Regions from separate parts of the Homo sapiens genome. Here all the other regions are linked to region 1. The links come from fine-mapping of genetic effects on gene expression. A gene starts in region 1. Each other region holds a variant in brackets. All regions are shown on one strand. Distances are from middle to middle.

Region 1 (7,531 bases):
ATGGATAGGAAGAATCAATGTCGTGAAAATGGCCATACTGCCCAAAGTAATTTATAGTTTTAATGCTATCCACGTCAGGCTACCATTGACTTTCTTCACAGAAGTAGAAAAAACTACTTTAAATTTCATATGGAAACAAAAGAGATCCTGTATAGCCAGGACAATCCTAAGCAAAAAGAATAAAGCTGGAGGCAACACACTACCTGACTTCAAACTATACTACAAGGCTACAGTAACCAAAACAACATGGTGCTGGTACTAAAACATATATATCGACCAGTGGAACAGAACAGAGGCCTCAGAAATGATGCCACACATGTACAACCATCTGATCTTTGACAAACCTGACAAAAACAAGCAATGGGGAAAGGATTCCTTATTTAATAAATGGTGTTGGGAAAACTGGTTAGCCATATGCAGAAAACTGAAACTGGACCCCTTCCTTACACCTTATACAAAAATTAACTCAAAATGGATTAAAGACTTAAACATAAGACCTAAAACCATAAAACCCTAGAAGAAAACCTAGACAGTACCATTCAGGACATAGGCATGGGCAAAGACCTCATGAATAAAACACCAAAAGCAATGGCAACAAAAGCCAAAATTGACAAATGGGATCTAATTAAACTAAAGAGCTTCTGCACAGCAAAAGAAACTATCATCAGAGTGAACAGGCAACCTACAGAATGAGAGAAAATTTTTGCAATCTATCCATCTGACAAAGGGCTAATATCCAGAATTTACAAGAAACTTAAACAAATTTGTAAGAAAAAATAAACAACTCCATCAAAAAGTGGGTGAAGAATATGAACAGAGACTTCTCAAAAGAAGATATTTATATGGCCAACCAACATGAAAAAATGCTCATCATCACTGGTCATTAGAGGAATGCAAATTAAAACCACAATGAGATACCATCTTACACCAGTTAGAATGGAAATCATTAAAAAGTCAGGAAACAACAGATGCTGGAGAGGATGTGGAGAAATAGGAACGCTTTTACACGGTTGGTGGGAGTGCAAATTAGTTCAACCATTGTGGAAGACAGTGTGGCGATTCCTCAAGGATCTAGAACCAGAAATACCATTTGTCTCAGCAATCCCACTACTGGGTATATACCCAAGAGATTATAAATCATTCTACTATAAAGACACATGCACACATACGTTTATTGCAGCACTATTAACAATAGCAAAGACCTGGAACCAACCCAAATGCCCATCAATGATAGACTGGATAAAGAAAATGTGGTACATATACACCATGGAATTCTATGCAGCCGTAAGAAAAGGATGAGTTTATGTTCTTTGCAGGGACGTGGATGAAGCTGGAAACCATCATTCTCAGCAAACTAACACAGGAACAGAAAACCAAACACTGCATGTTCTCACTCATATGTGGGAGTTGAACAATGAGAACACATGGATACAGGGAGGGGAACATCACACACTGGGGCCTCTCAGGGGGTGGGGAGCTAGGAGAGGGATAGCACTAGGAGAAATACCTAATGTAGATGACGGGTTGATGGATGCAGCAAACCACCACGGCATGTGTATACGTAGGTAACAAACCTGCACGTTCTGCCCATGTATCGCATAACTTAAAGTATAATTTTAAAAAAATAAAATAGAACTTCTAGAAATTAGTAATATAAAAATTGGATTTAAACTTCAGTGGATAGATTAAACAGATGATTAGACACAATGGAAAGAATCTAGTTAACTGGAAGATACATCTGAAGAAATTACCCAGAAAGCAGCCTCAGAGACAGAGACGAGACATAAGGAAAAGGTTAAAGAAATAAGGATGATAGAAGAAGAGGGCTAACATATGTTGAATTAGACTTCCAGAAAGAGATAATACTAAAAGTGATAATGAGAGCTAATAATTTTATAGTACTTACTATGTGCTCCTATTGTAAATCATTTATATACATTAAATTATTAATCTTCACAGCAAACCTATAGATTAATAATGTTATCCCCATTTTACTGATGAGGAAACAAACATAACAGAGTTACAAAATCTGGCTAAGGTCCCATAGGAGAAATGCCAAGTAGCCTGGTCTTGTGTTCTTCACCGTTATGTTAATATTTAAAGAGATTATAGCATTAAATTGTTTAAAAATGTTAAATGATGATAATTTTAAAATCTAGGAAACTCCACAAATCCCAAACATGATTTGAAAAAGAGTCACCAGATACAATTTGGTGAGAATGTATCATAGCAGAGAAAAATAAAAGCTCTTAGAGGAAAAAAAGGCAGATCACCACAAGCAAATGGCAACCTGACTGATGGCCGCAACAGTAACCCTGGCAGTCAGAACATGGATCTTCAATGTGCTGGAAGAAAGAAACTATCACCCTACAATGCCATGCCTGGAAAAACCATCTTTAGAAGACGAGGGTGAAACAATGACATTTTCAGATAGATAAAAGGAGGCATTTACCATGCAGAGACTCTCACAGAAGGAACTCCTGAAGAATGTGTTTTGAGAAATGGAAGATATGAGATGTAAAATGGGAGGATGAGCAAAAGCATTGGTGATTATGTGGATAAATCTGAATAAACACTGACTATTTAAAACAATAATAAGTGTTTCATTTGTTGGAGGGAAACAGAATCAAAATCAAATAATAGAGCACAGTAGGTTAGACAGTAACAGAAGTTAAAGCTTTCTAAGGTCCTGCTGCTGCTCATGAGGAAAGCAGATTTCTGGGGACAAATGCATGGTTTACCCACTGCACCAAAGTATAATACAAGAAAATGCTGAGTCTCAGAACTCGCCTCAATCAACACATGTTCCCTGTCTGAGGTCACCCAGCTGCTCTGGAATGCAAAGGGGCATGATCTTGTATGGTGTTCATCATTGTGTCTTCATTGCCTGGAACGGTACCTGACATATCATAGGCAAACAATAAACAGTGTTGAATGAATGAATAAATGAGTGAATAATTTCTTCTGATTGTCTTAAATGCTTCATAATTGTTACTTATAACTCAATTTGGCTGCAGCATAGGCACATGAAAGGAAGTCATAGGAGATAAGGCTGAAAATATTGGTTGGCTCTAGATGATCTAAAAATAATCTAGCTAATAAATATCATGATGTAGAGGGAGAAACGTGACAGATGGTGCATGTGATGTGCTAAGTCCCCTATATTTTATAAGGAGACTCAATATATCTAGTTGTTAACATCGATAAATCAAAAATAGAAATGTTGTTTTATTACGCAAAGCTTTTTTAAAAAAAAGAATGGAAACTGTATGCAGTGGTTGCTTTTGGGGAATGAGACTTCGAGAGACTTTGCATTTCATTTTATACACCTTAGTGTCATTTGAAATAAACCTGATTTTGAAAGGTCAAGTAAGCCAGGGCCTTGAATGCCAAGCAGAAGAGGGCAGACTATTCTTTAGCTATGAAAGCTCACGTCGCTTGATTGGTCTGCTTCCTGGATGCTCATTGTGGGCAATGAAAGACTTCAGGACGGTGATTCCTTGCAGGGAGTGGGGCCGGAGAGGGTAGGGGAGAAACCAAGATAAGTGATTGGAGTCAGGGCAAATGCTGAGAAACATCTCATGTGGTTTCCTGTGTCATACTCTTATTTTCCAGCACCCTCTGTACAGGAAATCACAGGGTTGTTGAGCATCTTGATAAGCTTCACTCAGTCATCAGGTTTCACTCCAGATCCTGCAGGCATCTCCCCATCCTCAGCTGTTTGCCAGTCCCAGGAAAGCACTTCTCAACTCACCAACTCCAGTAGAAAGAAGGGTGTTAAGGTAAGAGTTTGTTCAAGAACCATCTTCTTTCAAAGGCAGTTTTGGTTTTTACCTTAGTCCACATCCTGATGAATTCATTAGGAAAAGAAGACAGGAAGCTCCTTTGAGGAAGCTTTGGATGCTGGCAGCTTAGATGCTGGGAGATCCGAATGGGGTCAAGCAGGTTCGTCCCACTTCTCTTCTATCTACCAATATTCTCCCCTTCTCTTCGACCATTCAAATCTGAAACTATGGAGAGAAAGATTTTGCTGATTTTAATTTAGGGGCAGGCTAGAATGAAGTCATTACTTCCCTAAGCTAAATTGTTATTTAAAACCTCAGGTTGCACTGATTTTCTTGTTATTCAAAAGGTTTTTCCTTCATATCTGTCATTGTCCCAGCAGAAAACACACATCACACACTCTAAAGGGGTAGTTTAGAGGAGTTTAGTGAAGAGACTGTTTACAACGGCGTGAACAGGGATTAAGGAATGATGAAGCCCTCAAAGGCAAGTGATAGTGGAGGGCTGTTACCGTTGCTAGGTCTGAAGTGATAAGGAGAAAGAGAAGTTCTGAGAACTCAGAATGTGCTGTAGCGGTAACTGTAACTGTAACTATAGCTGTGGCTACAGGAAAGGGCCACCAGGCAGGGCTATGTCCTTAGGTAGAAAAACACTGCCACTGCCAACTCACAGCCCTTCAGGGCGCAGGGAGAGAGCCAGGAAATTTTTAAAAAATCATCCCCCAATCTACTGTCAATGTGTCCCTTTGGCTGAAAAAAAAAGTCACCCTCCAATCTCCTGTCAATGTGTACCCTTTGGAGCCTGAGTGAAAGACAGCCCATTGACGAGGCACAGACATGTCTCCTCCCAGGATGCAAAGGCAGGTAGAGAAGGATGGACATGAGATCCTAATAGCAAATAGGAAAGTCCATTTCTTCCCATAGCCTCTTCTCAGTTTGTCTTTCCTGAGACTTTCTCTATTAATGTGATTGAATCAATTTCTCATTCTATCACCTCCCTTTTTTTTAATTGTTTGACCTTCCCATCTAGTGTCACTTCTTTGGACTAGTCTCTCACTATCATCATAAATGCCTTGAGAATGGAATGTGGTTGGGAAAAAAAGGGATTGGGAGTACATAGGTACTCCCAGCTATAAGTACACAGGTATGTGTAATGTAAGTTTATGATTTTGGCTTCTCTAAAAAGAAACCTATTATAGTGATAATCAAAAAGAATGTTTACTAGACTTGGGCTGATAACTCTAAGACATCAAACATCAAGGCTCCTTCCAATTTCTATTTCCCCATCCCTAAAGCGGTACCCTTACCCTCATGGTCCTACATGGCTCCCAAACACATCAGCATTCCAGCCAGAGAGAAGAGAAAAAAAGAAAGAGTACAGGAGTAGCTGGTTATATCACTTTCTCTCACCTCCCCTTGACCATCACATATGGTTACATGGTGCCATTAGCATAAAGGGAAGCTGAGAAATGGGCCTTTTTCTGATCTAAGACTCAGAATTATTATGTGTGAGAAAAGGAGAATGGCTTTTGGGGCAACAAGCAGTCTCTATAGCCCGATTCTCTTTTAGCATCTGTGCTCACCTGGAGATTTTTCTCAACACTGCCTCACAAATAGTGAATGATGTAGACATGGAACAGAAATAAACCTAGGACAGGGCCCCAGGAGACTGGAGCTGGTATTGGACCTGCTTTTCACCATGTGATTCAGGAAACTCTTTTGTACACGTTAAGCCTGTCTTTCTTTGTTAAATGAGCGTATTACAATAGATGGCCTCCAAGGGATATGTGTTGGAGGCTGGGGATATAATAGTGAACAACCACAACAAAAATGTTGAGCTTAATGAGGGAAGTAAAAGAAAAAACAGACATACACTTAAAAATACAGGTGCAGGGCCGGGCACGGTGGCTCACGCCTGTAATCCTGGCACTTTGGGAGGCCGAGGCGGGCAGATCACAAGGTCAGAAGTTCGAGACCATCCTGGCTAACACAGTGAAACCCCGTCTCTACTGAAAAAAAAAATACAAAAAATTAGCCAGTCGTGGTGGTGGGCACCTGTAGTCCCAGCTACTCGGGAGGCTGAGGCAGGAGAATGGCGTGAGCCCAGGAGGCGGAGCTTGCAGTGAGCCGAGATCGAGCCACTGCACTCCAGCCTGGGTGACAGAGCGAGACTCCATCTCAAAAAAAAAAAAAAATACAGGTGCAAACTGTGTTCAGTGCCACGAATAAAAAGGCCAACCTGCCCTGAGGGAGGACAACAGAAGTGGTTTTCTTCCATATCCTCACAAGGCCAACCAGGGCTACAGGAACTAAGACAGCATGTGATGGATGCATTCAGTCCTTGATGCCAATTCTGCACCCCCATGGAGGACACATTCACTTTCCCCTTGGAGGCCTCCAACCCATGAGAGTTTTCTGCAGTGTGGAGTGATTGACGGCTGTTTTTCTGAAGCAAGAAAGAGCTCTTGCATTCAGTTGCTTATTCTCAGTTGGCTTCTATTCATATCTCTTCTCCTTATTTGATTAATCTCTCTTCCTTACTGTTTCTTAAAGTTGCTTAATCTAGGCTTAAAAAACTGCAATTTCGACATTCCATTTTGGATTTGATATGAGCATTACTTGTTGCTTTTCTCCTTTCTTCATGTGTAGTTGGTATTGAACCCTTGCAATGGGGCTGCAAGGCTGGTTAAGAACAAGCCCTCTGACACAGACCTGTGGGTTCAAATGCAGGCTCTACCACTTGTTTGTGAGACCTGAAGCATATTACTCAATACATTTGTGCTTTAATCTCCTTCTCTGTAAAATGGGACTAATAATAGTACTGACCTCACCAGGCTCTGAAGAAGATTTAAAGAGGCTATACCTGAAGAGCATTCAGCCAGCTGCTATTATTCACCCCATTATGAGTAAGGGCTCCTTCCCAAGTGTAATTTGCATAAGCATCTGCCTTTTCCCCTCAAAGCCCTGCACAGTGTAGACATGGTTCTTTTTTCTAATTTCCCACTCCTTTCCCCAAATAATCCTGTTCACAAATGCTTTAATTTGCAAAGAAAGCTCAAAATCATCTGGGGGAAGTAATGGGTCCACCTTAGATGTATTCATACCACAACACCCTCTAGTTACCTCTAGACACTAGACACTCTCAATTGCTGCCTCTCTCTCCTTTTCCCAAATTGCCCCCTTTTCCTCCAAGATGCAGAGAAATTCAGATAAACCCTGAATCCTCTCCATAAACTGGAAGTTTAAACTCTTTTGGGTGCTGAGCAAAAGCCATATACTAGCCCTTCCTGGATTGAAGATATGACAGTGGCCATTATTCACTATCTGTGTAGGCAGAAGCAATCCCTTCAAATACACCAGAGCTTTCCCAGAAGGAAACATGAAGAATGATGTTTTCTTCATTTCTTTACATGTGTGTTTTTTAGTGACTAATTTCATTTTAAAATGTTGGTGTTCCACTTAGCCCAAATTTTCAACTACTCTTGGCTCCCCATGCATGCATGCATGCATTCATTCATTCATTTATATGTGGTACAAACTTCTTGACCCTCCACTATGCCCTCACATTGAGCTAGGCACTGAGGACACAGAAATGGATAAGAGAAAAACTCTTTCTGTTTTCATAAAGCTGACCCACTGAGCAATTTCTAGTCTGACAGGCCTGGCTGTCCTCAGACCTGTCCTAGCAAGAAGTCACCTCTCCGTTATGACCCTAAATCACAATCTCCATTCTGACTGTTGATGGACTC
Region 2 (7,188 bases), 120 kb after region 1:
TAGTATTCTCTGATGGTAGTTGTATTTCTGTGGGATCAGTGGTGATATCCCCTCTATCATTGTTTATTGTGTCTATTTGATTCTTCTCTCTTCTTCTTTACTAGTCTAGCTAGTGGTCTATCTATCTTGTTAATGTTTTGAAAAAGCCAGCTTCTGGATTCATTGATTTTTTTGAAGGGTTTTTCGTGTTTCTAGCTCCTTCAGTTCTGCTCTGATCTTAGTTATTTCTTGTCTTCTGCTAGCTTTTGAAGTTGCTTGCTCTTGCTTCTCTAGTTTTTTAAATTGTGATGTTAGGGTGTTGATTTCAAGCCTTTTCAGCTTTCTGATATGGGCATTTGGTATATAAATTTCTCTCTTAACACTGCTTTAGCTGTGTCCCATAGATTCTGGTACATTGTCTCTTTGTTCTCATTGATTTCAAAGAACGTCTTTATTTCTGCCTTAATTTTGTTATTTACCCAGTAGTCATTCAGGAGCAGGTTGTTCAATTTCCATGTAGTTGTGTGGTTTTGAGTGAGTTTCTTAATCCTGAGTTCTAATTTGATTGTACTGCAGTCAGAGAGATTGTTTGTTATTGTTTCCAATCTTTTGTATTTGCTGAGGAGTATTTTACTTCCAGTTATGTGGTCGATTTTTAGAATAAGTGCTATGTGGCACTGAGAAGACTGTATATTCTGTTGATTTGGGGTGGAGAGTTCTGTCGATGTCTATTAGGTTCACTTGGTCCAGAGCTGAGTTCAAGTCCTGAATATCCTTGTTTTCTGTCTCTTTGATCTAATATTGACAGTGGGGTGTAAAAGTCTCCTGCTATTATTATGTGGGAGTCTAAGTCTCTTTGTAGGTCTGTAAGAACTTGTTTTATGAATGTGGGTGCTCCTGTATTGGGTGCATATATATTTAGGATAGTTAGTTCTTCTTGTTGCCTTGATCCCTTTACCATTATGTAATGCCCTCCTTTGTCTTTTTTGATCTTCATTAGTTAAAGACTGTTTTATCAGAGACTAAGATTGCAACCGCTGCTTTTTTTTGCTTTCCATTTGCTTGGCAAATATTTTTCCATCCCTTTATCTTGAGCCTATGTGTGTCTTTGCACGTGAGATGAGTCTCCTGAATATAGCACACCTATGGGTCTTCACTGTTTATCCAATTTGCCTGATGCTAGCTGGGTATTTTGCACATTAGTTAATGCAGTTTCTTCATAGTGTCATTGGTCTTTATATTTTAGCGTGTTTTTGCAGTGGCTGGTACCAGTTTTTCCTTTCTATATTTAGTGCTTCCTTCAGGAGCTCCTGTAAGGCAGGCCTGGTGATGACAAAATCCCTTACAATTTGCCTGTCGGGAAAGGATTTTTTTTCTTCTTTCCTTATGGAGCTTAGATTGGCTGGATATGAAACTCACGGTTGAAAATTCTTTTCTTTAAGAATGTTGAATATTGGCCCCCACTCTCTTCTGCCTTGTGGAGTTCCTGCAAAGAGATCCGCTGTTATTCTGATGGGCTTCCCTTTTAGGTAGCCTGACCTTTCTCTCTTGCTGCCTTTAACATTTTTTCCTTTATTTCAACTTTGGAGAATCTAACAATTATGTGTCTTGGGGTTGCTCTTCCCGAGGAATATCTTAGTGTTGTTCTCTCTGTTTCCTAAATTTGAATGCTGGCCTGTCTTGCTAGGATGGTGAAGTTCTCCTGGATAATATCCTGAAGTGTATTTTTGAACTTGGTTCCATTCTCCCCATCACCTTCAGTTGCACCAATCAATTGTAGGTTTGTCTATTCACATAGTCCCATATTTCTTGGAGGTTTTGTTCATTCATTTTCATTCTTTTTTCTCTAATCTAGTCTTCATGCCTTATTTCAGTAAGTTGATCTCCAACCTCTGATATTCTTTCTTCTGCTTGATTGATTCAGCTATTGATACTTGTGTATACTTCACAAAGTCCTTGTGCTGTGTTTTTCAGCTCCATCAGGTCACTTATGTTCCTCTCTGTACTGGTTATTCTAGTTAGCAGTTCCTGTAACCTTTTATCAAGGTTCTTAGCTTTCTTGCATTGGGTTAGAATATGCTCCTTTAGCTCAGAGGAGTTTGTTATTACCCACCTTTTGAAGCCTACTTCTGTCAATTCATCAGTCTCATTCTCCATGCAGTTTTGCGCTGTTGCTTGAGAGGAGTTGCGATAGTTTGGAGGAGAAGAGGCTTTCTGGTTTTTGGAATTTTCAGTATTTTTGCACTGCTTTCCTCATATTTCTGGATTTATCTACATTTGATCTTTTAGGCCGATAACCTTTGGGTGGGGTTTTTGTGTGGGGGTCTTTTTAGTTGATGTTGATGTTATTGCTTTCTGTTTGCTAGTTGGTCTTCTAACAGTCAGGCCTCTCTTCTGCAGGTCGGCTGCAGTTTGCTGGAGGTCCAATCCAGACCCTGTTCACCTGGGTATCACCAGTGGAGGCTGCAGAACAGCAAAAGATGGCTGCCTGATCCTTTCTCTGGAAGCTTCATTCCAGAGGGGCACTGGCCTGATGCCAACTAGAGCTCTCCTGTATGAGGTGTCTGTCCACCCCTGTTAGGAGGTCTCTCCCAGTTGGGAGGCACGGGGGTCAGGGACCCACTTGAGGAGGCAATCTGTCCCTTAGCAGAGCTGGTGCACTGTGCTGGGAGAACCCCCCTTGTCAGGATCAGCTGCTATCTTCAGAGGCAGCAGGCAGGAAAGATTAAATCTGCTGCGGTTGCGCCCACAGCCTCCCCTTCCCCCACGTGCTCCATCCCAGGGAGATAGGAATTTTATCTGTAAACCCCTGACTGCGCCTGCTGTCTGTCCTTCAGAGATGTCCTGCCCAGTGAGGAGGAATCTAGAGAAGTAGTCTGGCCATAGCTGCTTAGCCGCGCTGTGGTGAATTCCGCCCAGTCCAAACCTCCCAGCCTTCTTAGCACTGTCAGGGGAAAACCGCCTACTAAAGCCTCAGGAATGGCGGATACCCCTCTCTCCACAAAGCTCAATCGCCCCAGGTCGACTTCAGACTGCTGCGCCGGCAGTGAGAATTTCAAGCCAGTGGTTCTTTGCTTGCTGGGCTCTGTGGGAGTGGGACCCATTGAGGCAGGGGACCACTTGTCTCCCTGGCTTCAGCCCCCTTTCCAGGGGAGTGAACGGATCTGTCTCACTGGAGTTCCAGGCACCACTGGGGTATGAAAAAAACTCCTGCATCTAGGTCGGTCTCTGCCCAAACAGCTGCCCAATATTGTGCTTGAAACCCAGAGCCCTGGTGGTGTAGGCACACGAGGGAATCTCCTGATCTGCGGATCGCAAAAACCATTTCAAAAGCGTAGTACTGGGCTGGTAGCAGGGTTCCTCACAGCTTCCCTTGATTGGGGGACAGGTGTCCCCTGGCTCCTTGTACTTCGCAGATGAAGCGATGCCCCACCCTGCTTCTCCTTGCTCTCCGTGGGTTGTACACACTGCCTAACCAGTCTCAATGAGATGAACTGGGTACCTGAGTTGGAAATGCAGAAATCACCAGTCTTCTGCGTTGGTCCCGCTGGGAGCTGCAGACCAGAACTGTTTTTATTTGGCCATCTTGGCCCCCCTCCTGTACAGATTTTTAAGTGAACACAGTTTCCCAGTTTCTAGGATACATTTTCCAGGTTCTAGGATACGCTGGATTGCTGGATTATATGAAAATGCAAGAAGATTTCCCAGAGTAGCTCTACTATTTTACTTTCTCATTGGCAGTGTATGAGACCTCCAATTCCTTCAAATCTCAGCCAATATTTGAAACTATCAGTATTTTATATTTTAGCCATATTGAGAGGGTAGAGTGGTATCTCGTGACTTTTATTTGTTGTCCTAAACATTAGTGATGTTGAGCATCTTTTTATGTGTTTATTTGTCATGCATATATGTCCTTGCTGAAGTATCAGTTCGTCTTTTACCCTGCTTGAATCCAGCTCTCCACTAACTCCATGCCTGTTCCCATAGAACAGAGTGTGGCTGCAGCACAACACACAACCATGCCCAGCGGTTTCACTGTACATTTATAACCTTGAACCTGAAAGGTCCATTTATATCTCCTGAACACTCACGTAACATTTCCATAATTGCCTCTCACTCTCCAAAGGAAAATCTTCACGACATTTTCTCTCTCCTGAAACCGCCTACTCTTTATTTATTTTTTTAATCACTGTCAGGTGATGCTCTTCTGAGAATTACTCAATCTCCCCAGAGGGAACCTACCTCCCCATGTGCCTCTGAGCACACCTCTCTGCATTTTCTCTCATGCCAGGAAATGGGCTCTGCAAATTCCTGTTTGAAACCACCCTTTCCATTTGTGCAGTTTCCCCTTTTGCCTCCCCAGAAACATTTTATAGCATTATTGCCTCTCCCTTCTACATCTTCAATGTTTCCTTCTCTAATGGATCCTTCCATTGCAACTGAAACACCCCATCCTATTTGTGGCATAAAACACCATCTAAGCAACCATTCGTCTCTATCCACAGCCTGATTTATCTTCTTTATTTTAGAAAAAAATATCTTCCAAAGAGATTTCTGTACTCATTATCTTCATTTCCTCACCCTTCCTT[G/A]TATCTTCTCATATCTCTAACTCCCTCTCTTAGCTAGATCATTAAATTTATGTTTTTTGTTTGAAAATTTATTTGTGACATGGTAATAAAGTCAAAGCTTTCAAAAATAATCTTTAAATACACTCACTGAAAACTGTCATTCCCATTTTAGGTCCTCAGGCATCCTTGCCTTGTTAACAAAGACATATCCTATTATACTTACTAATAAGTGTATATTAATTCACAAATATTTAATAATAAAACAATATATATATTTTTCATACAATATATACATTGGTCTGCATTCTTTTTAAAAAATCTAACAAATTCTGCAGGGCCTTTTATATCAGGTTTGTTGCTCTTTCTGGGTAGCTACAGAGTATTCTATTGCATAGATAGACAGTAATTTATACAGTATTGATGGCCATTTTGGCTGTTACCAGTTTTTGACTGTAAATAACACTGCATTTATTAACTCAGAACATAGATCTTTTGAACATGCACAAATATATCTCTAAGATAAATTCTTAGATGAGGAATTACAGAGAGAAAAGGATGGTGCTTTATACATGCTTCCATATGTTGAAAACAGCCTTCACTGGAAGTTGTATCCATCTGCATCCCCAGCAGAAATGAGTGAGGGTACCTGATCCCACTCCATCCCCACACTGTATGCTATAAAACTTAATGGTTTTTTAGATTTTGGTAAATAAAATATAACTCTGTAATTTCAATTGGCATGTCTTTCATTATGAGTTGAATTTCTCCTCTTTCCATATGTTTAGGAGCCATTTTTATTTTTTAGAAATTGTGAATCATGACTTAAAGTTATTTTCTTATTACCTTTTTCAATTTTGAATTATTAACATCATTTAGAAAAATTTGTATCAATAGAGAAAATTTATACTTTGGCTATAACATACATTACCAAACATCTCCCAGTTTATTTATTTAATTTTATTAATTTACTAATTTATTTCTTGAGATGGAGTCTCGTTCTGTCACCCAAGCTGGAGTGCAGAGGCACAGTCTTGGCTCACTGCAAATTTCGTCTACTAGGTTCAATCCATTCTCTTGCTCAGCCTCTCGAGCAGCTGGGATTACAAGCGTGTCCCACCACAACGAATTAATTTTTGTATTTTTAGTAGAGACCAGGTTTCACCATGGTGGCCAGGCTGGTCTCATACTCCTGACCTCAGGTGATCTGCCTGCCTTGGCCTCCCAAAGTGCTGGGATTACAGGGGTGAACCACCATGCCTGGCCACAGTTTATTTATATCTTGATTATGATGGTTAATGTTATGCTAAAAAAAATAACTTTTTTTTTTTTTGAGACAAAGTCTGGCTCTATCAGCCAGGGGAGTGCAATGGTGTGATGTCAGCTCACTGTAACCTCCACGGCCTGGGCTCAAGCCATCCTGCCACCACAACGTCCCAGGTAGCTGGGACTACAGACATGCACCACCACACCAGGCTAGTTTTTGTATTTTTTGTAGAAACGGGTTTTCACTATGTTGCCCAGAATGGTCTCAAACTTGTAAGCTCAAGCAATCCACCCACGCAGCCTCCCAAAGTGCTGGGATTACAGGAATGGGCCATCACAGCTAGCCTTTTTGTCTTTATAAATATTTTCTTTAATATCTTCTGAATTGTATCCTATAATTGAAAGTCTTTTTCCACTTTGATTTAAAAACTATTTGGCTATGGCTTCTCCAGGTAATTGTATTTTCATTATAAAATTTTAAGTAGTGTATTTGCATGTATCCTCAAATCATATGTAAAGTATGTTTCCACCTTTACTTATTTCACACAGAAACTCAGTTGTCCCAATCCCATTCATTCAATTGTGCCTGTTTTACACACTACTTTGATATACAACCTTTATCATAATAGGCATACATTGAAGATATTAGAAGTCCACTTCCACTACTGCAATAAAGCAAATATTACAATAAAGTGAATCACATGAATTTTTGGTGTCCCGGTACATGTAAAATTTATGCTTACACTATACTGTACTCTATTGAGTCTCAATGGCATTATGTCTAAAGCAATGTGCATGCATTACTTAAAAAAATACTTTTTCACTAAGAAATGGTAACCAGCATCAGAAACTTTATCAAGCCAAACGTTTTGCTGCTGGAGGGTCTTGCTTGATATTGATGGCTGCTGAAGTGGCTGCTGAAGGTAAGACAGGCTGTGCCAATATCTTAAAACAAGACAACAGTGAAGTCTGCCACATCAACTGACTCATCCTTTTATGAAAGATTTTAATGTAGCATGCAATGCTATTTGCATAGCATTTTATACACAATAGAACTTCTTTTAAAATGGGAGTCCATTCTCTCAAACTGCGCCACTGTTTTTATCAAGCAAGTTGAACAAGATGGAATGTGATGGGAGAGGCTTATCTCTATTGGATATGGGACAGAGGCCAAGAATCATCTCAGGTAGGGTTTGTGTCTCCAATACCTCTGGCCACTGATTTGTCCATAGTCCTCATACAGGAAATAACAAGTCTGTCCAGCATCTTCATAAGCCTGGATTGCTCACCAGCTTTGACTCCAGCTCCTGTATGCATCTCCTGAATTAAGCAACACAGAAGGGTTCTCTGAAGTCACTGAATCCCAGAAAGGCCCTCC
Region 3 (7,531 bases), 290 kb after region 1:
TTGGGTCACTTCACCCCCTGAGCCTTAGTTTTCTCGTCTGTAAAAATGGTGATCATCACATGCTACTCACATAGATTTATGGTGAGGATTTTTTAAAAGAACATATAGAAAGCAACTGCCATGATATGCTGTCTCTTCCTATTGTATTTGCGGAATATTTTTTCTTACCAAAAGCTAAAAAGTGAAAGAGAGGTTAGGAATGTGGGCAATGGGGGAAGTTCTGTGATAACTAGCTGTGTGGCCTTAGGCAGGTCACTTTACTTCTCTGAATTTCCATTTCCGCCTTTAGAAAATGCAGGAAACGTTAGTACGTTCCTCCAGGGGCTGCTGTGAGGACTGAGTTTGCTAACACCTGCCCTGGAGCAGTTCCTGGCCTGTGTGGTCCGGGTGCAGTAGTGACAGCTGCCCTTTCTGTTGTGAAGATACTGTCATTGTTATCCTCTTCGGTCGGGAGCTAAGATGTTACTGAACAGGTGGTCCGAAGATTGCTTCTGCCCTTTTTCCTGCTTCCTTTCTCTCTCAGATCACCTCCTCCTGTTCCCTTCCATCCTCACCAACCTGACCATGAAATTTTAAAAGTGTAGATTTTAAAAGAAAGCCAAAGTGGCCCTGAGAAGAGGCTGGGAGGGTCCACAGAGTCTGAGCTGAATCACTGTGAATTTCTGACCCTCCACCCCAAAGATGTATTTAGGACAGAATGTGTTGGCTTCAATCATGAGCCCCTGGTCTCTCTCAATGCTGCCTATGCAGCTAGCCCCTGCTACTTTGGTCCCAGCAGGGTGGCCAAAGCCAGCAAAGAATCTGTGTGTGTTTTTCCTGCTCCCATCCCACCCAATCTAGGAATTTGGCAGGACGAGGGCTCCTCAAGCCCCCTCCAGCCCCCTCCTCCTCAGAGTACAGGGGGAAGCTGGTAAATTCAGTTCATACTGGACCTTTGGACCAGACCACAGACACCTGCAGGCCCAGCAACGCCTTTCTGTTGTCAGCGAGGGAGGGCACATGGTCCTGGGATGCCTCTCTTGTCCAAAGGCTGCCCCAGACAACTTGGCATTGTTCAGAGCCCTTTGTCTACACCTGCTTCCCCACCACCACCACCCTCATTTCTCTGCTGTGCCTTTGTTGGTGGTTTGCACAGATCCTGAGCACCTGCTGTTCACCAGTCACCATGATAGTCAACATTCACCTTTCTCATTCACTGGTGATCTTCACCGCCATCCTGTGTGGAAGGTGTTGTCATCCGTGTTAGACATATGAGAAAAATTTAAGGCTCAGAGTGATAAAGACACTTTCCTAGAGCCACACAGTTTGACTAGAGCAGAGTGAAGACCTATCCCCAGGGAAGGCTTCCTAGAGCAATTCAAGATTAAGCTGGAGCTTAAAGTCTGAGTTTGATTTTAAGGAGGGGTGCAAAGAGGTGATGGCCTTCCAGGCAAGAGAGACAACGTAAGCAAAGGGTGAAGGGAAGGATGTCCTTCATGGTCACGGGGGTGATGAGGAGGCAGTTACGGTCTGAAATCAGAGTGACTGGAGCAGGTGGCCCAGCAAGGGGGCAGTCCCCAGCTGCAGTCCCAGGCTAGGATGCCCCATCTCTTACCTGATTGACACACCCACCTTTTTGGCTGGTCTCCTGCCTCCCAAGCCAAGAATCTATTCTTAGAACTGGTTGATTTTTTTAATCCTTAATATCAGGTATGGAAGAAATGTCTCATTATGCTCCTTAAATGAAATTAGCCCAGACTCAGAGCTCCCCAGCATCCCTATCTGGTAGGAAATTCAATCCCAGCCATCACTGGAATGACTCTGACCCACTGCTGTGACCCCCATGCCAGGGATGTTTCAAGGAAACCACACTGATTATAGCTGAGATACCCCAGCCCCACTGAAGAGCCCCTCTGGGTCTGCAGACTCTGTGCCTTCTGTCGGGAGGACGCCGTGTGGGGTGCAGCGGAAGCCCTGCAGGCTGAGATCCAGCCCTCTCTATGCACTCAGTGCCACCCACCCACACACCAGGCACCAGTCATGAAACTGATGGGCTCTGTCACCTTCCCAGGCCCGGAGACCCCCTCCCCTTCCTCACACCCCCACCTCCCTGACAAAGAGACACCCGCCCCCAGGTGCTCCAGCTTTTACAAAACAAAGACTGGAAGGATAGCTCCTCCAGGAACTTGGCCTTTGGTCCTGCAGCCAAGCCGCCTCTCCCAAGGGAATATAGGTCTGTCTTACCTCTCTGGAAAGAAGGGGAGGGAAAAGGAAAAAATTCCAAGTGAGCGGTTCACCCCCTTTCCACACTCCCCTTTTAGACTACATTTCTTTCTAGTCCTTGAATGTGTCCTGCTTTGTGTCAATTCCAGGCCCGTCCACATGCCCTCCTTCTACCTGGAGCACCCCACCCCCTCCTGTCTCATCCCACGGCCTCTCACCCCCACTCCTCTTTCACATCTCACCAGAGATGGCCCTTCCTGGGTACCAAACGTCTCCTGAGTCCTCTGCCTCCTTAGGGGTCTGGCTGGCACTCCCAGGGCACCCTGCTCGTCTCCCCGCACACGGGTCACCTGTGTCACCATTGCCTTTTCTTCTTACCTACATCCCCCATGAGATGCTTGTCGTTCATTGTATTCCCAGGGTCCCACACGTAGCCTGAACATAGCAGGTGTTTAGTAAACGGGTTGAACAAATGAATGGTCCAATCCCTGAATCAGACTCAAATGAAAAATGGACAACTGTTGCCCGAGCCCCTCAGCAGGCTGGGCCTACCCTGCACTTTTCATCTTCCCTTCCCTGGGGTCCCTGCCATGCCCGCACCCACTTCTCCCACTCAGAGAAGAGGAGGGATGGAAGGGAAGTCATTTGTCTGGGCACATCCCAAGCAGAGAACACTCAGACCCTGTGTTTGGGATCCAGAACACTCAAGTTTGCAGTCTGCTCAGACGTGAGGACAGATGGCTGGACAGTGGACAGCTGGGCAAGGAGGGTAGGCAGCTTGGCAGGACGGAAATAGCAGTGAACTAAGCATTGGGAGTCCTGGGCTCAGAGCCTATTCATTCCACGAGTTTGCTGCACGCATCAGTCTGGGTTCTGTGGTTGCCAGCAACAGAAGAGGACTCTGAGTAACTTAGGCAGAAAAGATATTTATTAGAAGGCTTTGGGGTATGATATAAATACTGAGTTCTGATTCTGGGCTGTCTGTGTAGCAAGAGGCAAGCAGGGCACCAGGGGAGGAGAAAGGTGACTCCCAGAAGGAAATCAGGATTTTAACTACCTGAAA[G/A]CAAATTGTTGGCACACTGTGTGACCTGAGACTAGTCACTTAATCTCTCTTTGCCCCGTTTTCCCAGCTGGATGATCTGAAGCTGCCCTCTCTCCTTCATTTATATCACCAGCTTGCTTTTTGCTGAGAAAGCTTCCTGCCCTGGAAGATGGCACCCTTCCCCATCCAGACACCTTGGGAATGAATTATGAGGGAGCCAGGTGAGTGAGCGTTTACGCCGTCCCCCTGCAACCCGCCCACTGAGGAGGCCAAGCCTTCTCCATCTGGATGCTCTGGGACACGTGACCCATTCTCATGAGGTGTTCAGCCTGATCATTCCTTTTCCATGAAACCAGCATGCCCTCTGCCCCTGCCTGCTGAACGTGCTGATGAAAATCTGGATGGCATTATGGGCCTCTTCCTGGCTATGGTTTGGCCATCTTCTTTAATTGGGATGCTCCTAGCTGGAGTCTGCCTTCCTAGAGCCCCTAAAGCTACCAACCCTGAGACCCTGCCACTACCCTGCATTTGGCCTTTAAGGTGTACATCAACAGGCTCAGGCCCTGTGCTAAACACCTGGGATGCAGAGGTGGTTGAGGGGGTGAGGATGCTCCAGAGTCGGAAGTTGGTGGGAGAGGCAGGTGCATACACAGCTAACTATAGCAGCAGAACAAAGTAAGAGACAAAGGGACATATGAACCAGGTGTGTGGGGGAGCCCAGAAGTGGGAGGACGCAGTTCTTCCTGAGAGATCAGGGAGTGCTCCGTGGAAGACGCACCGCCTGAGTCGCACCTTGGAGAATGAGTAAGATTTGACAAAAGGGGAAAAGGATCTTCCAGGCTGAGGGAACAGCACAAACAAGGCTCGAAGGGAGGAATGGACAGGTTTGATTCAGCGAATAGAGATGTCAGGTGGGGTTGGAGCTTTAAGAGGGTGGTAGGAGCTCCACGTTGACAGTGAGGGGTATTTACGGGGTACCAGGAGCACAAAGCCCAGGATAGAGGGCATGTCTGCCTGGGCTTGGCTCAGCCTCACACCCAGGAATCCTGGCTTCAGCATCCCAGTTCCCCCTTGCTCCTCACCGACCTTGGAAGCAGGCTCAGGCTCCCTGATTGGCTCAGCAAACCAGCCAGCTCTTTCTCTGCATAAGTCCTGGGCAAAGCTGGGACTTCATGTTAGGAGACTCCAGGATGTCTCCTAATAGCACCCCCCATCCCCCACTCTACCCCCCAGGCAGAGGGGCGGTGCCTTTGTTAGAACACTTCACCCAGCCCACGGCAGCAGCTGTTCTGTATCTTCTGCACTGGCCGTGAACTTCTAGAAAATGGGGTGGGTGGTCTAGGCTGGATCTCCAGCACCCAGCACTGGTGGCGTAGCTGCACAACGCATTACCTTCACACATACGAACGAGCAGAGGAAGGTGATGACCTTCAAGTTACAACAGGCTTGGAGTCTGACCACCATATTTTCATAAGTGAGGCCTCAGACCCAGAGCGCAGAAAGGATTGCCCAAAACCACAAGCGTGATGGGAGGAGAGTGGAAACAGAGCAGTTTGGTTCACAGGAGCACTACTCACAAATAGCCAAAAGGTAGAAACAAGCCAAATGTTCAACTGATGAATAGATAAATAAAACATCGTCTGTCCTACAGTAGAATATTATTCAGCCTTGAAAAGGAATCCATGAAAAGGAATGAAGTACTGATGTATGCTACGGACTTGCTAAGTGCAAGAAGCCAAACACAAAAGCACAAAAGGCTACATATTTTATGATTCCATTTATATGAAATATCCAGAATAGGCAAACCCATAGAGACAGAAAGCAAATAAGCCGTTGCCAGGGGCTGTGGGGAGGAGGACAGGGAGTGACTCCTTAATGAGTACAGGATTTCCTTTTGGGGTGACAAAAATATTCTGGAAGCAGATCATTATGATGGTTGCACAACATTATGAATGTATTAAATGCCACTGAATTGTACCCTTTAAAATGGTCAAAATGTTGAATTTTATGCTATGGGAATTTTAGCACAGTAAAAAGAGTAGTTTCAGACCAGATCGGACGCTACCAGCTGGGTCTAAAGTCCATTCCTTAAACGTAAGCTGCTGCTCCCCCACTTCGTGTTACAGACCTACCCAGCCAGACCAGGTGTGAGAGAGCCAGCATCACTCTCAGTGCAGGGAAGCCACAGGGAAGCCACATGATCAAGTGGAAGAGGGCTTCCCCCGCCACCCCAGGAGGCAGGATTCCTGTCTTCTAGGCTGCTTCTTGCCCACGTGCCTCTGCTGAGGCCTAGCCCCCATCTGCTGCTCCATCCCACTGACCAGCCTACTTCTGATGGCACCAGATGTTCCACACATCTTGGGCCTCCATGCCTTGCTCTTTCTATTTGCTCTACCCAAGAAATCCTTTTCCCAACCCCCCATTCACCTAAAAACATATTTTAAAAACCAGTCCCTGGCCGGGCGCGGTGGCTCACGCCTGTAATCCCAGTACTTTGGGAGGCTGAGGCAAGCAGGATCACCTGAAGTCAGGAGTTTGAGACCAGCCTGACTAATACGGTGAAACCTCGTATCTACTAAAAATACAAAAATTAGCTGGGCATAGTGGCAGGCACCTGTAATCCCAGCTACTGGGAGGCTGAGGCAGGAGAATCACTTGAACCGGGGAGGTAGAGGTTGCAGTGAGCTGAGATAATGCCTCTGCACTCCAGCCTGGGCAACAGAGTGAGACTCCGTCTCAAAAATTAATTAATTAATTAATTTAAAAAAAAACCAGCTCCTGTCTCCCCCTTGGAGAAGACTTCCTCTTCCCCTTGCCCCTCCCACAAATGAGCAGAGCCTTCCCCAGGATGGTCACATGCATACATCAATTAAAGCAGGCATCAGGGTACAGTCGTGTCTGCATGTCTGTCTCCCTGAGAAGACTGGGAGCCTGCAAGGAGGGGCCTGGATTATTCATCACTGTATTCCTAGGGCAGCTCCAGGCCTTGCTCACAGGAGGTGCTCAGCACACGCCTGTTGAATGCGACGATGGCTTTGGGAAGCTACTTTCACTCCGGGACATCCTCCATCAGTGAAGTGGGGGCAGGCTGGGTGATTTCCAAGTCCCTTCATCCCTGGTGGTCTCTGGTTATAAGGGAAGCAGTGGTGGGGGCAGCCCAGCAAGTGGCTGCTGTTGTCACAGGCCAGTGTTCTGTTCCTGTTGCCTGGCTGATAGAAGTGGGGAAGGAGAGAGCAGGAGCCTTAGCAATCCAATAAAAGCAGCTATTTCTGCTCTTGGTGGGGAGGGAGGAAGGCAGCGCCCAGAGACTGGGTTCCCCATCCAGCCTGAATGGGCCATGTATTTTCTTTGGAAAGCTAATTAAACCCTCCTCTGGACAGTCTAGACACGCAGGCTGTGGCTGGGGTTGCCTGGAGTCCTTCGACTACAGGGAAGAGCAGCAGAGGCTCTTGCTCCATTTTCCTTTGCAGTCAAGAGGTGCTACTCGTTCTGCTTTTCTGGTTATGAAATTAGTCATTTTCTAGGAAGCTTATTTATAGAGTCCACTGCACACATGAAGCACTGAGCTATTCTGAACACAGCTTGGGGCCTGAGAGGCTTAAGGTGTGAAAGCAGGTGTGAGTCACACATGGGTCCCCTTCCAGAGGTATCTGGATACTGTGCCTTTCTGTACCCAGCCAGGGGTCAGCCCTCATGGGCTGCCATCCAGCTAGGTGCTCGTTAGGGTAAGGAAAGAACAAGTTTAGGATTGGAAGGTTGGGGGTGGGTGCTCTCAAACACAATCCCTGTGGCCACCACCAACTCAGTATAAAATGTGGGGCAAGTCAGACCCCATTCTCTGGCTCAGTTTCTCCTCTGTAAAATGAGAGGCCTTCCAGATCTGTGATTCTCTGACTTCTGTGGACAACAGCTGTGGAGGAGAGCTCCCAGCTACTTAGCAAAGACCCGTCCACAAAGCAGCTCAGATGATGGCTGTGTTTGAGATTCCTAATGTTTTCTCAAGAACGTCAGGTCAACATTTACTTATTCCATAAGTGTTTATTTATTGAACATCCTACTACGAACCAGGCACTGTGCGAGGCTTTGAAGATACAATGGTAAATAAAACAGAAATAGTGGACCCTGCCTTCATGAAAGCCACAGTCTAATGATGGAGACAGATGTTGAATAATGGCATATATTACAGTGACATTTCTAACCGTGTCAAGTGCATACCATGTGAGAGAAAAGCATGTGGAAGGTGCTGTGAGGAAAGAGCCTTCCCAGTGTGGCTGGAGTGCAGAGGTC
Region 4 (7,531 bases), 130 kb after region 1:
AGCATCTGGAAATCCCAGGATATGTAGGGAAGTAGGATGTACAAGTGCTAGAATGGGAAGAACACTCCCCTAGTTTAAGGGATTTGGGATTCTCAAGCTGACTGCATGGCCAACATGGATCACATGCTCATTCCAGGCAAGCCAAGCAGATAGTGAGGTTATGGGATTGCCCCTGTCTGAAACTGTGCCATTTGTGCATTTGTGCTCAGGTATCTCTTTTCAGAATATGTGGGTAAAGTGTGACTTTACCATAACCATGGACTGAAGATAAATAGTGTTGTGATCCAGACCACCTGAGAAATTTACGTCTCTACACAGTGACTATAATCACAGTAAGCATATGTTCTTCTCACCCATGTGGAAGCGACCTAGAATCCAAAGAGACTGCTCTGATGCTTGTTCTGTATGACGGTGTGGTATCAGCTGGGCACCATTTTTGTCAATGTACCAATGCTCACTATAGATACAGATGGCATTTGTTTGCTGTTATCTAGCAGTTACAGTAGAGTATAAAAAAAGAAATCTCAATGCTCATGCCCATCATATTGGTCCAATTGTTCTGAAACCTTGCAGGATGCAAACACAAGGAAGGAGGGCAGAGACAGAGCAGACCTCATTCCTGAGCGTGTATGTAGAAGTGAGTGGATCATGGAAGACTTCGTGTAATAGGTAGAATTTTAACCGATGACTACAATTAACCCAGCATTACTATTGTAATTATACCCTAGTAAATTTTGCCAGTCACCTAAATTTTTGTATTGGGCAAGGAGAGATAAATAGAATCTGGACAGATGGAAATTGGACGAGAGATAATTTACAGTGGCACCGTTAATAAAAGCATAGAGTTTTTTGGGGAATGGTGAATAATTCATACATGTGTTTTATTCCTTGTGTCACCCCATGTATTTGGTCATGGTGGCAAGATCCATCTTAAATAGAATCACAAGACTGGAGTACTCGGAATAATGAGCATTAACTTTTGTGGCCTTGAAGTGATAGGGGTTGGTGTTCGTTTTGTGATATTCACAGGGGTGAGCTCTATATTAATGTAAAGTCCAGAGAGGGCCAGGCAGGGCAGCCCAACAGGACAAATCACAAAGGCAATGCCCTGCTCTCCTTACCCTCCTCACGGTGATATGTCTAGCCCTCCAGGGTCAGAAGGCATCGATTAAAAAAAAACAAGAAAAAGTCTGGGGTTTAAGGGAGAAGAGAAAAGCAATGGAATGCAGCCCCTTCTCTGGAAATCCAACATTGTAACTGTCACATAAAAATTCAGACCCAAACTCTGCATAGCTTTGATATGGATGCCCAAAAATTTCTATTAAAATTATGTGTCACCTAGCACCTCTTTGTAACGTAATATCTGTAGTGACTTGACATTGAGTTTAATACTCCTGTTTTAACATCCTGGTACACATGTGAGAGAATAATACATATTAACCGCAGACATTCTGAAGAAAATTGTTATTCCCACTCCAGGTGTGCAGGCACACTTGCCTTCTTATCAAAGACATGTACAATTATTGCTGAGAGTAGAGATGCATGATTCAGACTTAAGTTGTGTCTGTAAAAGTGTATGTATTCATTTTAAGAGTTATTGGAAACAAATATGATAAAAATTTAATATGTGCTTAATTTTGTGGAAGGTGTCTGTTAGTGCTTACTATGTTATCTTCTAGCCTATGTGCCTGGTTTACAAACTTCCTTCCAGCAAACCCCATGTCTTCATTCTTGGTGACTTCAATATCCATGGAGGTAAGTCCATAGAACGAACAGGTCTTTGTTTTTTAAGTTTTCGTTGTAAATTAATTGTAGACTATGAAGAAGTTATGAAAACAGTACAAAGAGTTCCTGTATGCCCATCACCCAATCTACAGCAATATTTACATGTTAAATAAATGTATTATCAAAACCAGGAAATTGACATTGATACCATCTAATTATCTACACTACAAAACTTATCAAATTTCACCAAATATCTATGGTACCATCTTACCAAATTTTACCACTGTTTGCATGCACTCATTTTTGGAGTGAGATATTCCTCTATGTTTCATTCCATAACATTTTGTCACAGGTGTAGATTCATAACCACAATCGCATTACATACAGAAGTGTTTCTTCACCACAAAGATTTCCCTTGGGCTCCTCCTACTGTCATACCCACAGTATGTTTCTTCCCAAATTCCTCTAGTGATTGATCTATTCTTCATCTCTATAATTTCATCATTTCAAAAGTGTTATATAAATGGAATCATATAGTATCTAATCTTTTGACTTTGGCTTTTTTCATTCAGCATAATGTCCTCAGGATCCACCCAACTTTTTGCAGGTATCCATAGCTTATTGCTGACTTTTTTTTATACTACTGAGTAGTGTTCCATTGTATGGATGTACTATGCTTTGTTTCACTATTCACAAGTGGAAAGACATTGCTGTTTTTTCTAACGTGGCATTTATAAATAAAGCAGCTATACACGTATGTGTACAGACTTTTTTATTTTACTTTAAGTTCTGGGATACATGTGTATAATCTGCAGGTTTCTAACATAGGTATACATCTGCCATGGTGGTTTGCTGCAACTATCAACCCATCATCTAGGTTTTTAGCCCCACGTGCATTAGGTATTTGTCATAATGCTCTCCCTCCCCTTCCTGCCCACCTCCTGACAGGCCCCTGTGTGTAATGTTCCCCTCCCTGTGTTCAACGGTTCTCATTTTTCTACTCCCAATTATGATTGAGAACATATGTTGTTTGGTTTTCTATTCTTGTGTTAGTTTGCTGAGAATTATGGCCTCCAGCTTCATCCATGTCCCTGCTAAGGACACGAACTCATTCTTTTTTATGACTGCATAGTATTCCATAGTGTATATGTACTACATTTTCTTCATCCAGTCTATCATTGATGGGCATTTGGGTTGGTTCCAACCTAACCCACTATTGTAAATAGTGCTGCAATAAACATACGTATGCAAGTGTCTTTATATTAGAATGATTTATAATCCTTTGGATGTATACCCAGTAATCGGATTGCTGGGTCAAATGGTATCTCTGGTTCTACATCCTTGAGAAATCTCCTCACTGTCTTCCACAATGGTTGAACTAATTTACACACCTACCAACAGTGTGAAAGCGTTCCTATTTCTCCACAGCCTCAGCAGTATCTCTTGTTTCCTAATTTAAATTACCATTCTGACTGACACGAGATGGTGTCCCACTGTGGTTTTGATTTGCATTTCTCTAATGACCAGTGATGATGAGCTTGTTTTCATACATTTGTTGGCTGCATAAATGTCTTCTTTTGAGAAGTGTCTGTTCATATCCTTCGCCCACTTTTTGATGGGGTTGATTGTTTTCCTCTTTTAAGTGCTTCTAACTTCCTTGTAAATTCTGGATATTAGACCTTTGTCAAATGATGAGATTGCAAAAATTTTCTACCATTCTTTAGGTTGCCTGTTCACTCCGATGATAGTTTCTTTTGCTGTGCAGAAGCTCTTTAGTTTAATTAGATCCCATTTGTCAATTTTGGCTTTTGTTGCAATTGCTCTTGGCATTTTCATCATGAAGTCATTGCCCATGCCTATGTCCTGAATGGTATTGCCTAGATTTTCTTCTAGGGTTTTTATGGTTTTGGCCTTTACATTTAAGTGTTTAATCCATCTTCAGTTAATTTTTGTATATGGTGTAAGGAAGGGGTCCAGTTTCTGTTTTCTGCATATAGCTAGCCAGTTATCCCAGCACCACTTATTAAATAGGGAATCCTTTCACCATTGCT[T/A]ATTTTTGTCAGGTTTGTCGAAGATCAGATGGTTGTAGATGTGTGGTGTTATTTCTGAGGTCTCTGTTCTGTTCCACTGGTCTATATATATCTGTTTTGGTAACAGTACCATCCTGTTTTGGTTACTGTAGCCTTGTGATATAGTTTGAAGTCAGGTAGCATGATGCCTCCAGCTTTGTTCCTTTTGCTTAGGATTGTCTTGGCTATACGGGCTCTTTTTTGGTTTTAAAATTTAAAGTAGTTTTTTCTAATTCTGTGTAGAAAGTCAAGGGTAGCTTGATGGGAATAGCACTGAAACTATAAATTACTTTGGGTAGTATGGCCATTTTCACGATACTGATTCTTCATACCCATGAGAATGGAATTTTTTTCCATTTGTTTGTGTCCTCTCTTACTTCCTTGAGCAGTGGTTTGTGGTTCTCCTTGAAGAGGTCTTTCACAACCCTTGTACATTGTATTCCTAGGCCTTTTATTCTCTTTGTAGCAATTGTGAGTGGGAGTTTACTCATGACTTGGCTCTCTGCTTGTCTATTATTGGTGTATAGAAATGCTTGTGATTTTTACAAATTGATTTTGTATCCTGAGACTGCTGAAGTTGCTTACCAGCTTAAGGAGTTTGGGGCTGAGACGATGGGGTTTTCTAAATATAGAATCATGTCATCTGCAAACAGAGACAATTTGACTTCCTCTCTTCCTATTTGAATACCCTTCATTTGTTTTTCTTGCCTGATTTCCCTGGCCAGAACTTCCAATGCTATGTTGAATATGAGCGGTGAGACAGGGTATTTTTGTCTTGTTTCCGGTTTTTAAAGGAAGTGCTTCCAGTTTTTGCCCATTCAGTATCATATTGGCTATGTGTTTGTCATAAATACTTCTTATTAATTTGAGTATATTCCATCAATACCTAGTTGATTGAGAGTTTTTAACATGAAGGGATGTTGAATTTTATCAAAGGCCTTTTCTGCATCTATCGAGATAATCACGTGGTGTTTGTTATCGGTTCTGTTTATGTGATGGAGTACACTTGTTGATTTGTGTATGTTGAACCAGTCTTGCATCACAGGGATGAAGCCGACTTGGTCATGATGGATAAGTTTTTTGACGTGCTGCTGGATTCGGTTTGCCATTACTTTATTGAGGATTTTTGCACTGATGTTCCTCAAGGATATTGGCCTGCAATTTTTTTTGTTGTTGTTGTGTCTCTGCCAGGTTTTGGTATCAGGATGAGGCTGGCCTTATAAAATGAATTAGGGAGGAGTCCCTCATTTTCTATTGTTTGGAATAGTTTCAGAAGGAAGAGTACCAGCTCCTTTTGTACCTCTGGTAGAATTTGTCTGTCAATCTATCGGGTCTTGGGCTTTTGTTCATTGGTATGCTATTAATTACTGCCTCAATTTCCAAACTTGTTATTGGTCTATTCAGGCATTCAACTTCTTCCTGGTTTAGTCTTGGGAGGGTGTATGTGTCCAAGAATTTTTCCATTTCTTCTAGATTTTCTAGTTTATTTGCTTTGAGGTGTTTATAGTATTCTGTGATGGTAGTTTGTATTTCTGTGGGATCAGTGGTGATATCCCCTCTATCATTTTATTGTGTCTATTTGATTCTTCTCTCTTTTTTTCTTTACTAGTCTAGCTAGTGGTCTATCTATCTTGTTAATGTTTTCAAAAAAACAGTATGGCTATGGCTAGCTCCTAGATTCACTGATTTTTTGGAAGGGTTTTTGGTGTCTCTATCTCCTTCAGTTCTGCTCTGATCTTAGTTATTTCTTGTCTTCCATTAGCTTTTGAATTTGCTTGCTTTTGCTTCTGTAGTTTTTTTAATTGTGATGTTAGGGTGTTGATTTCAAGCCTTTTCAGCGTTCTGATGTGGACATTTGGTGCTATTAATTTCCCTCTTAACAGTGCTTTAGCTGTGTCCCAGAGATTCTGGTACATTGTCTCTTTGTTCTTATCAGTTTCAAAGAACTTCTTTATTAGCTGTGTCCCAGATACTGGTATGTTGTCTCTTTGTTCTCATTAGTTTCAAAGAACTTCTTTATTTGTGCCTTCATTTTTTTATTTACCCAGTAGTCATTCAGGAGTAGCTTGTTCAACTTCCATGTAGTTGTGTGGTTTTGAGTGAGTTTCTTAATCCTGAGTTCTCATTTGAATGCACTGTGGTCAGAGAGATTGTTTCTTATAATTTCCAATATTTTGCATTTGCTGAGAAGTGTTTTACTTCCAATTATGTGGTCAATTTTAGAAGAAGTGCTACGTGGCACTGAGAAGAATGTGTATTCTCTAATTTGGAGTGGAGAGTTCTTTTGATGTCTATTAGGTTCACTTGGTCCAGAGCTCAGTTCAAGTCCTGAATATCCTTGTTAATTTTCTGTCTTGTTGATCTATCTGACAGTGGGGTGTAAAAGTCTCCTGCTATTATTATGCTGGAGTCTAAGTCTATTTGTAGGTCTGTAACAACTTGTTTTATGAATATGTGTGCTCCTGTATTGGGTGCAAATATATTTAGGATAGTTAGCTCTTCTTGTTGCATTGATCCCTTTACCACTATGTAATGCCCTCCTTTGCTTTTTTTTCTGTGTTGGTTTATAGCCTGTTTTATTAGAGAGTAGGATTGCAACCACTGGTTTTTTTTGTTTTGTTTTTGTTTTGTTTTTTCTTTGCTTTCCATTTGCTTGGTAAATATTGCTCCATCCCTTTATTTTGAGCCCAAGTGCCTTTGCACGTGAGGTGGGTCTCCTGAATACAGCACACCTACGGGTCTGGACCCTTTACCTAATTTGCCCATCCTTGTCTTTTAATTGGGGGCATTTAGCCCATTTACATTTAAGGTTAATATTGTTATGTGTGAATTTGATCCTGTCCTTATGATGCTAGCTGGTTATTTTGCACATTAGTTGACTCAGTTTCTTCATAGTGTCATTGGTCTTTATATTTTGGTGTGTTTTTGTAGAGGCTGGTACTGGTTTTTTGTTTCCATATTTAGTGCTTCCTTTAGGAGCTCTTGTAAGGCAGGCCTGGGGGTGACAAAATCCCTCAGCATTTGCCTGTCAGGAAAGGATTTTATTTCTCCTTTGTTTGTTGAGCTTAGTTTGGCTGGATATGAAACTCTGGGTTGAAAATACTTTTTTTTTTTTGACTGTTGAATATTGGCCCCCATTCTCTTCTGACTTGTAGGGTTTCTATAGAGAGATCTACTGTTATTCTGATGAGCTTCTCTTTTTAGATAGCCTAACGTTTCTCTCTGGCTGCTCTTAATATTTTTTACTTCAACTTAACTTTGAAGAATCTGACAATTCTGTGTCTTAGGGTTGCTCTTCTTGAGGGGTATCTTAGTGGTGTTCTCTCTATTTCCTAAATTTGAATGTTGGCCTGTCCTGCTAGGATGGTGAAGTTCTCCTGGATAATATCCTGAAGTGTATTTTCGAACTTGGTTCCATTCTCCCCATCACTTTCAGTTGCACCAATCAATTGTAGGTTTGGTCTTTTCACATAGTCCCATATTTCTTGGAAGTTTTGTTCATTCCTTTTCATTCTTTTTTCTCTAATCTAGTCTTCATGCCTTATTTCAGTAAGTTGATCTCCAACCTCTGATATTCTTTCTTCTGCTTGATTGATTCAGCTATTGATACTTGTGTATACTTCACAAAGTCCTTGTGCTGTGTTTTTCAGCTCCATCAGGTCACTTATGTTCCTCTCTGTACTGGTTATTCTAGTTAGCAGTTCCTGTAACCTTTTATCAAGGTTCTTAGCTTTCTT

Which allele goes with the higher level. Positions count from the first base shown, and alleles are read on the strand shown. Sizes are in standard deviations (SD) of each study's normalised expression. Not every link is listed here.
With allele G in place of A in region 2, the expression in esophagus muscle of the gene that starts at base 3,684 in region 1 is higher (small effect, 0.36 SD a copy in GTEx).
For the expression in tibial nerve of the gene that starts at base 3,684 in region 1, allele A in region 4 goes with a lower level than allele T (moderate effect, 0.46 SD a copy in GTEx).

Evidence for each region.
Region 2: its variant is fine-mapped to the expression of MRGPRX2 in esophagus muscle (GTEx, PIP 0.98).
Region 3: its variant is fine-mapped to the expression of MRGPRX2 in esophagus muscle (GTEx, PIP 0.95).
Region 4: its variant is fine-mapped to the expression of MRGPRX2 in tibial nerve (GTEx, PIP above 0.99). The same link has a PIP of 0.9 or more in breast and subcutaneous fat.

What each region holds. Positions count from the first base shown.
Region 1 is chr11:19,056,870-19,064,400 of GRCh38, reverse strand. MRGPRX2 (MAS related GPR family member X2) reads left to right here and starts at 3,684. Exons shown (of 2, transcript NM_054030.4): 1 at 3,684-3,782.
Region 2 is chr11:18,939,333-18,946,520 of GRCh38, reverse strand. MRGPRX1 (MAS related GPR family member X1) reads left to right here and starts at 7,107. Exons shown (of 2, transcript NM_001393578.1): 1 at 7,107-7,188. RefSeq lists an enhancer at 2,964-3,465. The variant G/A (reference allele first, on the strand shown) is at 4,569.
Region 3 is chr11:18,767,873-18,775,403 of GRCh38, reverse strand. It overlaps PTPN5 (protein tyrosine phosphatase non-receptor type 5), which reads left to right. Exons shown (of 15, transcript NM_006906.2): 2 at 3,333-3,465. The coding sequence starts at 3,446. Among named protein-coding and RNA genes, the nearest start is that of PTPN5, 20 kb to the left of the region's middle. RefSeq lists enhancers at 3,893-4,392, 4,393-4,894, 5,146-5,195 and a silencer at 4,727-4,776. The variant G/A (reference allele first, on the strand shown) is at 3,266.
Region 4 is chr11:18,922,336-18,929,866 of GRCh38, reverse strand. No RefSeq gene overlaps it. Among named protein-coding and RNA genes, the nearest start is that of MRGPRX1, 13 kb to the left of the region's middle. The variant T/A (reference allele first, on the strand shown) is at 3,777.